Linked DNA regions of Homo sapiens: region 1 is linked to region 2. Evidence: fine-mapped expression QTL. A gene starts in region 2. The other region holds a variant in brackets. All regions are shown on one strand. Distances are between the middles of the regions. Region 1 overlaps ZNF710 (zinc finger protein 710). Region 2 holds the start of ZNF710 (zinc finger protein 710).

The links. PIP is the estimated chance that this variant, and not a neighbour inherited with it, causes the effect.
Region 1: its variant is fine-mapped to the expression of ZNF710 in whole blood (TOPMed, PIP above 0.99).

Annotation. Positions count from the first base shown.
Region 1 is chr15:90,073,608-90,078,826 of GRCh38, forward strand. It overlaps ZNF710 (zinc finger protein 710), which reads left to right. Exons shown (of 5, transcript NM_198526.4): 4 at 509-683. It overlaps ZNF710-AS1 (ZNF710 antisense RNA 1), which reads right to left. Exons shown (of 2, transcript NR_146321.1): 2 at 905-1,306. Among named protein-coding and RNA genes, the nearest start is that of ZNF710-AS1, 6.0 kb to the right of the region's middle. The variant G/T (reference allele first, on the strand shown) is at 2,241.
Region 2 is chr15:89,999,083-90,004,556 of GRCh38, forward strand. ZNF710 (zinc finger protein 710) reads left to right here and starts at 2,242. Exons shown (of 5, transcript NM_198526.4): 1 at 2,242-2,532. RefSeq lists silencers at 1,694-1,863, 2,272-2,440, 2,856-3,355 and enhancers at 3,055-3,823, 3,824-4,591.

The sequences.
Region 1 (5,219 bases), 74 kb after region 2:
AGTGACCCCCAATGGATGGCTTGTGTCCCTGTCTCTCGGGTGTCTGGGGTCACATGGAAAAGCATAAAGAGAGAACTGTCCATAAAGAACAGGATTCTGGGCCAGGCATGGTGGTGCATGCCTGTAATCCCAGCATTTTGGGAGGCTGAGGTGGGTGGATCATTTGAGGTAAGGAGTTCGAGACCAGCCTAGCCAATGTGGTGAAACCCCTTCTCTACTAAACATACAAAAAATTAGCTGGGCGTGGTGGCACGTGCCTGTAGTCCCAGCTACTCGGGAGACTAAGGCAGGAGAATCTCTTGAACCCAGGAGGCAGAAGTTGCAGTGAGCCGAGATCATGCCACTGCACTCCAGCCTGGACAACAGAGTGAGAGTCTGTCTCAAAAAAAAAACAAAAAAAAAAAACAAAAGAATAGGATTCTGGCCCAGCCATAGAGGTGGGAGTGGGCTGGGGTCCGGGGAAAGCAGGTTCCCCACAGGCTCAGGACACCGGGTTGATGTGTTCTAGGTGTGCGGGAAGTCCTTCAACCGCATGTACAACCTGCTGGGCCACATGCACCTGCACGCCGGCAGCAAGCCCTTCAAGTGCCCCTACTGCTCCAGCAAGTTTAATCTCAAGGGCAACCTGAGCCGGCACATGAAGGTCAAGCATGGCGTCATGGACATCGGCCTGGACAGCCAAGGTGGGTGGGCCAAGCGCAATGGACAGAGCAGGAATGATACCAACATGACGCACTCAGGAGCCTCCTGCCCAGTTAGAGGAGTGGGGAGGCTGGCCAAGGCTGAGACTTCGTTGGGGTGGGCTCAGGTCTGGAAGGGGGGTACCCTGGAAGGCCATGATGACAATAACGATGGGATATTTATGTCTTCTTCAAAGGACTTAAATGAGATCACGTAAACAATATAATAAAAATCATAACTAACATTTATTGAGTGCTAACTGTGTGCCAGGCCTTTATTAACTCATGTGATCCTCAAAGCGAGGTTGGCTCTGTCATTGTCATCGTTTTACAGATGCAGAAACTGAAGAACAGAGAACTTAGATAGCTCATGCAAGATGACAACACAGCAGGAGGTGACAGACACTTTATTTCGTTACCGTGAGATAATATTTCAAATAAGTGTATGGGAAAGAAAGTTAGAAAGGGGAAAAAATGGCAGCCGGAAAGATAAGGGAGAGCCAGGTGAGGTCCCAACTCCAAGTACACCATGGGAGGTCCTAAGCAAGGGACATGCAGAGGGGAGATCTGAGCTTCCCAGCAACCAAGGCAAAAAAGTGTCAATCAGTCACACTCTTCACAAGTGCCTGCCAGAGACTATAACCCACATACTCATGAAAGGGCCAGACAGCCCTGACGTTAAGATCTGGGAGAAATTTTAGGAGAGGATCCTATGCCTCAGCAGTTCGTAGAAGTTTCAGAGGCTGTCAGAAAACATCCCAAGTGTTAGCGGTAGCCTTTCCCTCCAGCAGTGGTCAGTACTTAAAGCATTTCTGTTGGGTGACAGCAAAGCTGTTAGCCTCTCTGGCCTCATGGTGGGGAGGGACTGCTGTGGAGACTCCACAGGAAGGAGGGAGCCAACAGCGCTACAGGGAGGCTCCTTCTACAGTTGGGAGCTATTTCTGGTGCTCTGGCTGGGCATGATGGCTCACACCTATAATCCTGGCACTTTGGGAGGCCGAGGCAGGAGGATCCCTTAAGGCCAGGAGTTTGATACCAAACCAGGCAACATAGTGAGACCTGGTCTCTACAAAAATATTTTTAAATTAGCTGGGTGTGGTGGCGTGTGCCTATAATCTCAGCTACTTGGGAGTCTAAGGCAGGAAGATCACTTGAGCCCAGGAGTTCAAGGCTGTAGTGAACTGTGATCGGACCACGGCACTCCAGCCTGCGTGGCAAAGCAAGACCCTATCGCCAAATTATAATAAAGAAATTCTGGTGTGCCTCTGAGTCACACCAGCTGGGAACATGCTTTGGCAGTAACCAGGTGAGCTGACTTGCCACGTGGGATTATTTACTGGAATGCAGGCAGGCACGCGGGAACAGCTGCAGTAGCTTAACTCTGGTTTTGGAACAGCTGACCAGTGAATGGCCTGGGTTTTCTGGCAGAAACAGGTATCTCAGTTGTTTTGTTTTGTTTTTCAGTTGTCTATTAAGGTTGCTTCCAGTAGACGAGAATGAAACCCCGTCGGCTGCTCTTGGTAGCTCCTTGCTACTCAAAATGTGGTAGGAGGATGAGCA[G/T]CCTCGGCCCCACCTGGGATCTTGCTGGCCTCTCAGCTCCACCCACACCTGCTGAGTCAGACTCTACACTTCAAAAAGATCTCTGGGCCATTTGTTGCAGTCAAGTTTGAGACCCACTGGACCAGACTAGTGCCTCAGAGTCTCCTGGAGGGCTTGTTGAAACAAAGTGCTGGCCCCACCCCCAGAGTTTCTGATTCAGTAGATCTGGGGTGGGGTCTGAGACGCTGCCTTTCCCACAAGTTCCCAGTTCTTAGCAAAGCAGCCGCTGGTTCAGGGACCTCATGTTGAGAACCTTTGATCCAGACTGCAGAGGGCTGGCTGGCAAATCAGCTGCATGTTGGGAGTCACCTGAGGAATGTTTTAAATGCTGATGCCTGAGTTTGGACCTGAGGTTCAAATGTAAGTGATCTGGAATGTGGCCTGGGATCAGGATTTTTGTAAAGCACTTTGGGTGAGTCCATGTGCAGTAGATTTTGAGAGCTGTATTCTAGTGGATCTGCCCTGTTGCTAACCCACCAGAAGGAACCAGAGCAGAACGTGCCCTTTTGGAAATAACTGGGACCATGAAGAGACTGTCAGTGTTACAGCTCTTTTAGAATTTGTTAGGCTGGGCGTACTGGCTCACGCCTATAATCCCAACACTTTGGGAGGCAAATCCCAAGGTGGGCAGATCACCTGAGGTTGGGAGTTCGAGACCAGCCTGGCTAACATGATGAAACCCCGTCTCTACTAAAAATACAAAAATTAGCTGGGCGTGTTGGCACATGCGTGTAATCCCAGCTACTCGGGAGGCTGAGGCAGGAGAATCACTTGAACCTGGGAGGCAGAGGTTGCAGTGAGCCGAGATTGTGTCACTGCACTCCAGCCTGGGTGACAGAGTGAGACTTTGACTCAAAAAAAAAAAAAAAAAAGCATTCATTTAGCAGGTTTTCCAGTTTTTACCAGAAATCGCCCCACCCCCATCCCACCACCCAAACAAGATTTTTTAAAAAGACTGTCCCTGTACACCTTGTTCCTCGGGGTGGTTAAGGCACAACCTCTTTCTATATGAGCTCAGTCACCAGGGATGCTTAGAATTCCTCTATTCCTGGCCGTACCAGATGACAGAAGGAAGCGATTGGCCCTGGAATGACTGGGCTCCAGGTCCCCACCTCCCTCATACAGCCTTGGTCTGGGAAGCCCAGGCTTGATGCGTATGCAGAAGGAAGGCAGCATACATTCTAGACAGAACGATCTAGTAACTATGGGGCTGTCATTTGGGGAGGTGGATCAATGTCCTTATAAAAAATGCTACAGACTATTCTCTGGGGCCCACAGGACGGGACCATAGACTTAATAAACAAAATGGGGACGGTGTACAGAGATCCACAAGTAGAAATTTTCTCAAGGTGCTTTTTTTTTTTTTTTTTTTTTTGAGACGGAGTCTTGCTCTTTCACCCAGGCTGGAGTGCAGTGGCGCGATCTCGGCTCACTGCAAGCTCCACCTCCTGGGTTCACGCCATTCTCCTGCCTCAGCCTCCCAAGTAGCTGGGACTACAGGCGCCTGCCACCACGCCCGGCTAATTTTTTTGTATTTTTAGTAGAGACGGGGTTTCACGGTGTTAGCCAGGATGGTCTTGATCTCCTGACCTCATGATCTGCCTGCCTTGGCCTCCCAAAGTGCTGGGATTACAGGCATGAGCCACTGCGCCTGGCCCCCAAGGTGCTTTATTTAGCTTGTTTTTGAAACCAGCTGTGTAACATGAGGGTGTGGCACTAGGACTGAGGGAAGAAACAGCCCAAATCTATAAGATATGGGTCAAGTGACCTTGTTTTATAAAGTCCGGAAGACTCACAGTGGGTTAGATGCTACAGGCACAAGTAACAGATACCCATTCAGACTGGCCTAAACAATAAGGAAATCCATTAAGAAATGGCTCAAGACCAGGTGTGGTAGCGCACACCTATCGTCCCAGCTACTCGGGAGGTTGAGTTGGGAGGATCACTTTGAGTTTGAGGCTGCAGTGAGCCATGATTGCACCACTGCACCCCAGCCTTGGCAATAGAGCAAGACCTTGTCAAAAAAAGAAAAGAAATGGGGCCAGGCGCAGTGGCTCACGCCTGTAATCCCAGCACTTTGAGAGGCCGAGGCAGGCGGATCACCTGAGATTGGGAGTTCAAGACCAGCCTGACCAACATGGAGAAACCCCGTCTCTACTAAAAATACAAAAAAAATTAGCCGGGTATGGTGGCGCATGCCTGTAATCTCAGCTACTTGGGAGGCTGAGGCAGGAGAATCGCTTGACCCCAGGAGGTGGAGGTTGTGATGAGCCAAGATTGCACCATTGCACTCCAGCCTGGGCAACAAGAGCGAAACTCGGTCTCAAAAAAAAAAAAAAAAAGAAGAGAAAAGAAATGGTTCAAAGTCTAGGCCCTCTTCAGAGCTGGCTGATTCAGCTTGCCAACAGTGACATCAGGGTGAGGCTTCCTCTGTCCACAGCATTAGCTGCGAATATCCTCATGGTCACAAGATGGCTGCCAGTGGCCGTCAGGGTGTGTGCTTCCTTGTTCACATCCAGTGGAAGAGTGACAGCCTGCTCCCCTTAGCTCTCTGACACCAATGAGAAGGTGCTAAGAACTTACTAGCAGGCCTTTCCTCATGACCCATTCAACAGGATTGGGTCACGTGCCTATTCCTGAACCACTAATTGGGAAGGGATGGGATTACTCTTAGACCAGTGGTTCTCAACTGAGCATGAGTTTGTCTTCCAGGTGACAGTTGGCCATGTTTGGAGACATTTATGGTTGTCACAACTGGGGTGATGCTACTGGCATCTCATGGGTAGAGGCCAGGGATGCTGTCAAACATCCTACAATGCACAGGACAGCCTCACAACAAAGAATTATGGCCCTAAGTGCCAAGGTTGAGAAAGTCTGCCTTAGACCTGTCAGGGCTGCCCCCAGCCTGGGGTCTGTTTCCCCCAAAACACGCACATCTCA
Region 2 (5,474 bases):
CCGTCTTGCCCTGGGGCCTTTGGACAGACTGTTCTCTCCCATGCATTTGGCTAGCACAGCCTAATCTAGACACGACCTCCTCCAGGAAGCCACACCTGACCACCTTAGTCCAAGCACCCTCTTAGGAGCTTTCTTGGTTCACTCTTGCCTGTATCGCATGGCACTGAGGTTGCTGTCTTCTTTTCTTGCTCCTTCGCCTGCAAAGCCAAAGGCCAAAGCAAGGACTGCGTCTTGCTGATGATTCGGTCCTCAGCAGCCAGCACCTTCGCCGGCACGGGGTAGGTACTCAGTAGGCATTTGTTAAGTGCATGCTTGGCTCTAAGAGCTGCATTCTGCTTTTTTGGAGGATGCAGCTTGGGTGTACTAAGTGGGAGGCTGCAAGTGATGACGGAAATGTGGTTTCCTGCAGACCTGGGCAAAGGCCCTGGGGTCATTGGGGGCTCAGGGTGCTGATGTTAAAAGACCATGGTGTCCTTCTTGTTGAACCAAACTCTCAGGCTACTGTTTCCTCACTCCTCGTCAGAGACAAATGTGTTCTGAGTGACTGGAGTCATAGCTCAGAGCACCAGGAGCTGGTTTAGGGTGGGGCGAGGGGCCGTGGCCTTGGGGCTCTCGTTTCTAAAGGCCCAGGGCTCAGGGCTGGGGGGAGGGGTGAGGAGTGGCAGGTCGTGTCCCCGGGAGGCTGCAGTCACTGGGGGAGAGACAATGGGGCTCAGCATCTGCTCCTCCCTGGGAGAAGGGACCCTTCAGTGAAAAGCCAGGGAGAGCAGGGAAGTGTGGGAGGAATTGATGAGGAGAAGGGGTGGAGCCAAGGAGATGCAGCCGGGAGGAAGGAAGGGAAGGGAAGGAAGGGAAGAGGGAGGGGAGAGGATCCAGGCTTTCCTTCCTCCCGGTGACCTGGTCCTGAGCCGCAGCTTCCCTTGCATTGTTCCCTGAGTTTGCTCTCGGGGCCCACCGAGACCTCACGTTTCTCCCCCTGGCTGCAGCCCCAGTCCGAGGGCCCGGCATCCAGCAGGTGCTCAATACTTACTTGGGAAAATGACAAATGTGACCAACTTTGCTTTGGGAACTTTCCCCCGTCTTCTCCCCACTCCTCCGGAGAACCCGAGGACAGAGCAGGTCTTGGGAGCACGCCCGGGCGCCCCATGAATAATTGACCCTTCCTGGCGGCACTGCCCGGCTCTGTCCGAGGGCTCCGGACCCGCCCTGCGTTGCAGTCGAGAAACGGCTCGGAGTGGCGGGTGTTCTGGAGGTTGGAGGCCTGGTGTCCGGCCTGCGCCGGAGCTGGAGGGCGGCGAGGCTGTGCCAAACCCCGCGGCCCCTCAGGGAGCCGAGAGGGACCTGACGGCCGCGCTGCCAGCGACCACGCCTCGGCGCCCCCCAGCAGTGCGCCCCGGGGCCGAGGCCCAGGCCCTGGGCTCGGGGACCCCGCCAGCCCGCCGATCCCAGCAGCTGCCCTGAGCCCCTTCTCCACCCGGGCCCTGGCGCTCGGAGCCCGCGCCGCTCCCTCGAGTCAGGCCGTCCAGGGCTCTGCTAACAGCTGTTTAAAGGCTTTTGCTGTTCAGTGCTCTGCGGGGATGTTTGTTCCAGGCCCATCTGCCTACTTTAAAAATACATAAGTGAAGCACACACACCCAGCTTGCCACCTCTGGCTGGGGAGGGGCGGGCTCGGCGGCCCTCGCTCGCACTTGGGAAGGAACCGGCACCCAGGAGCCGCACCCGTGCCCCAACACCCGCACCGGCTCTCCTCTCCAGAGGACGCCCCTGGCTTCCCTTGGGGGGGGCGGGGCGCAGGGCCCCCGGGCCCCCTTTGTACCGGACAGGGCCGGGCCCCCCATTTCCAAGCGAGGTCTGCCTCTTCCCCGCTTCAGTTAATCTTTGTTCCCCTTTTCTGCTGAGAGGAGAAAAAAAAAAGAGAGAGAGAGAAAGAAAGAAAAGAAGGAAAAAAGGCGTGACTTGATTTTCAAACGAAACTCCCACAGCAAACAAAACCCTTTTAGAGAAATAAGAAAGGAGGAAGAAGGAAGAAAAGAGGGAAGAAAAAAACAGGAGAAAGAAAACCCTTCAGGCTTTCAATTCGAGTGGGAGAGTTGAACCGAAAGAAAGAGAAAGAAAGGAAGAAAAATCCTCTGCGGTAGAAAGAGAAAAGAAAACTTGGGCTGACAAGAGGGAGGTGTTGGGGGTGGAAGGAAGTGAGAAAACAAAAGAGAGATAAAAGGGCTGCTTTTCTGTCTCTCTCTTCCTCTGCGAGCTGGCTTAGGAGGAGCTGTTTTGCATCCCTTCACGTCAGCCCTGCCTCATTCCCTTCTTCCAGGGAGGGAGAGAGCGCGAGCGAGAGAGCGAGCGAGAGGAGGGGGGAGAGAGAGAAAGAGAGGAGCCGGAGGGAGGGCGGCAGGAGCAGGCGGCGGGCGCGCGTGGAGGCGGGCGGCGGGCGCACAGCAGCAGCCCGGGCGGTGGGCAGCCAGGAGCCCCCGGCCCGGCCCGGCCCGGCCCGCCGAGGGCCCCAGCGCAGGAGCCGCGCCCGGACCCAGGGTGAGTGTCCCGCGCGGCCCCCCGCCCCAGCCCCAGCCCCAGCCCCGCAGCCCCGCGCTGCCGGCCGGCGGGGGCGCGGGGGGCGCGGGGGTGGGTCGCTGCGGCCGCGGCCGACCCGCCCCCCGCCTCTCCCTGGGGACGGCCGCGCGCAGGCCCGCGCCGCGCTGCAAACATGTCGTCTTTTCCTTTCACTTCCACATTCCCTCATGCCGGAGAGCTGGAGGGAGAGAGGGAGAGCCGGGGAAAGAGGGAGAGATGGCGTCTGGGGTGGGGGGGAGGGAGAGGAGGGGGAGGGGGAAGGGAGAGGGAGGGAGCGAGCGAAAGAGGGCGAGAGGGAGGAGAGCGCGCGAATGAGAGAGAGAGAGAGAGAGAGAGAGAGAGAGGCAAAAATGAAAGGAAAGCGTCGCGGCGGCGGCGGCGGCGGCGCGGGAGGCCCGGGAGGCGACGGTGGCGGAGGCTCTCGGGCCCGCACGTGGGTGTCCCGGTGCTGGGTGCGCTCCCCCCACACCCGGCCCGGGACTCAAAGTTTCACCCCCTCGCCGCCCCGCCCCTACGGCTGCCCACAAACTTTATTCTCGGAGCGGGTGGGGTTGTTGCGCGTCCCAGCCGGCCGGGGGTGGGGGAGAGCTGAGCGCGCCGCTGGCGGGGCTGGGGGCGTCCCCGAGGGCCACTGGCCGCCGCACGCTGGGCGCCGCGGGATCTCCGCCGGGACAGCGTCGGGGCGCCGCGGGCCGGGGACCCAGGACCGGCGCTCGCTGTCTGGGGGCGTGGGGGTGGGGGTGGCGGGCGGGGTCCCTACGGCCCGTCTTGAGCCTCCCGCGGCTCAGCCCCCCTTCCTCCTCGTCGCCCTCTCTCCGTCTTCTCGCGGTCATTTTCCTAATTGGATGGAGCTGTGGGGCGTGAGCACCAGCGTCAGATCGGGGCCCTCAGGCTACCAGGTGGGCGCGCGGGCTCGGGGACCGACGGGGCAGCCCCAGCCTCCCCACCCTAGGCGCACAGATCCCGCAGATCCGGCCCTTGGGCCACCGCCCCCTTCACCGCGGACTTGCTAACTAGTGCGTATCGGGTTTTTTTCCAACTTGCCTTTTAAGATGACTTTTATGGGCGCTGCAACTGCTTCCCTCCAGTCTAAGCTGTAGTTTGGAAAGATTTAAGAGGCCAGGGAGGTGCTTGTGTGGATTTTAACCAACCTGAAAGGGTCATTCATGTATCTCTAGGATTTGCGAGACGGTTAGGGCAAGGCGTAGCAGTATCCGGGGTGCCTTTTCTTTTTTCTTGATATGGAGTCTTGCTCTGTCGCCCAGGCTGGAGTGCAGTGGCGCGATCTCGGCTCACTGCAGCCTCCGTCTCCCGGGTTCAAGCGATTCTCCTGCCTCAACCTCCCCAATAGCTGGGACTACAGGCGCACGCCACCACGCCCGTTTAATTTTTAATTATTTTTAGGAGAGACGGGGTTTCACCATATTGGCCAGGCTGGTCTCAAACTCCTGACCTCGTGATCCGCCCGCCCCGGCCTCCCAAAGTGCTGGGATCACAAGGACTCTTCGAGGTACTCGTCCTACTGGGTCTGAGGGAGGCCTGCCGGGCAATCCAGTGAGGGACCAACGTCATGGCCCACCCTTGAGCTGCAGGCCGAGTGCCCACCTGCAAAGGGCACCCTGAGCACCTTTCTTGCTGTGCAAAATGGAAACTCCCGGCCGGTATCGACCTGCAGTGTACATAACTAGTCCCTGTGGGCATCTGGGAAATTCACAAAACTCCCCCACAGGTGTGCGGAGAAGGACTTTGTGCTCTTGGGGGTCACTCAGCCAGCTTTGAAGCTGCCCTCTCAGTCCTGCATTTGTACACGTGTAAGTAAAACCAGTCAAAGTTCATTTCTGCCAAGTAGAGGGCTGGGGGTCTGTGTCCCTATTGCATCTTCACCAGGGGGCCTAGAGAACCAATGGGGCCACGTGGGAGAAGGGAAGAAGAAAACCGTTCTTAACTCGTTAGATAAGAGACAGTGTATTCCTAATGTGATCAAAGCCGATGGGGCTATCTGGTTTTGACTTCTGAAAACCTAGAGTGGCCATTCCTTTCTCATTTGTTTTAAAGAGAATGTTATTTTCTATACTTTCTCATTGGTTTTATTAGCTGACCCTCAGGCCAGGGTAACTGTGCTGGGTACCTGCCAGTCTCGGAGCAGAACCTCTGATCGGTCATCTGTAGCTCCAGAGAGGTGCCCACCTGGTGCCCCAGTGACCTTCTGGAGCTGGCTTTCCTGCATGAGGGCCGTGGGGATAGAGCTGCTTTCTTTTGGGTAGGGGGAATTGGATGTTTGGGTCACATTTTCTTCCTCCAGCCTGGCCTGGTTGCCTGTGTCTTGGTGGAGGGGGCTGCAGTGAGTTGAAGTGGGACGCGGGCTCACTTGCTTGTCTTCTCAGAGCTGATACCTGGGTGAGTCCTCAGCCCACGGTGTGTGGTCAGCGGGCCATTTTTCCAGGGCTTGGGTCATTTCCATTCCAACCAGGCATTTCCTACCAGGGAGACTTATTTTAGGCTCACTGTCTAGAGACAAGGAGACAGACAAGGTCTGGAATGGTTTTTGAGTTGGAGGAAGGGAGACTAATGGGACCACCAGAGATTTTGCACTTCTATTTTAGGTTTGCCTTGTGGCCCAGAGATATTTCTAGCAGAGTTGTGTTTGGAAAGAAGCACAACTTCTTTCTAGAAGGGAGTAAATAAATAAATAAAGGAGGAGTCCAGCGCATCTTGGAGGAGACAAGTGAAGTCAGCTCCCTGGCCCCACCAGTGCTGATGCTTGGCGCAGGCTCATAATCTGGCTTGCTGACCCCTCCCATACCCTCGTTCCTCAGGCCTAGCCAGGGCCTAGCCCGCGGCAGGACTCATTATGTTGAAATAAGGAATCTGTGAATGTGCTGGGCCTGCTGTTAATGGTGCTT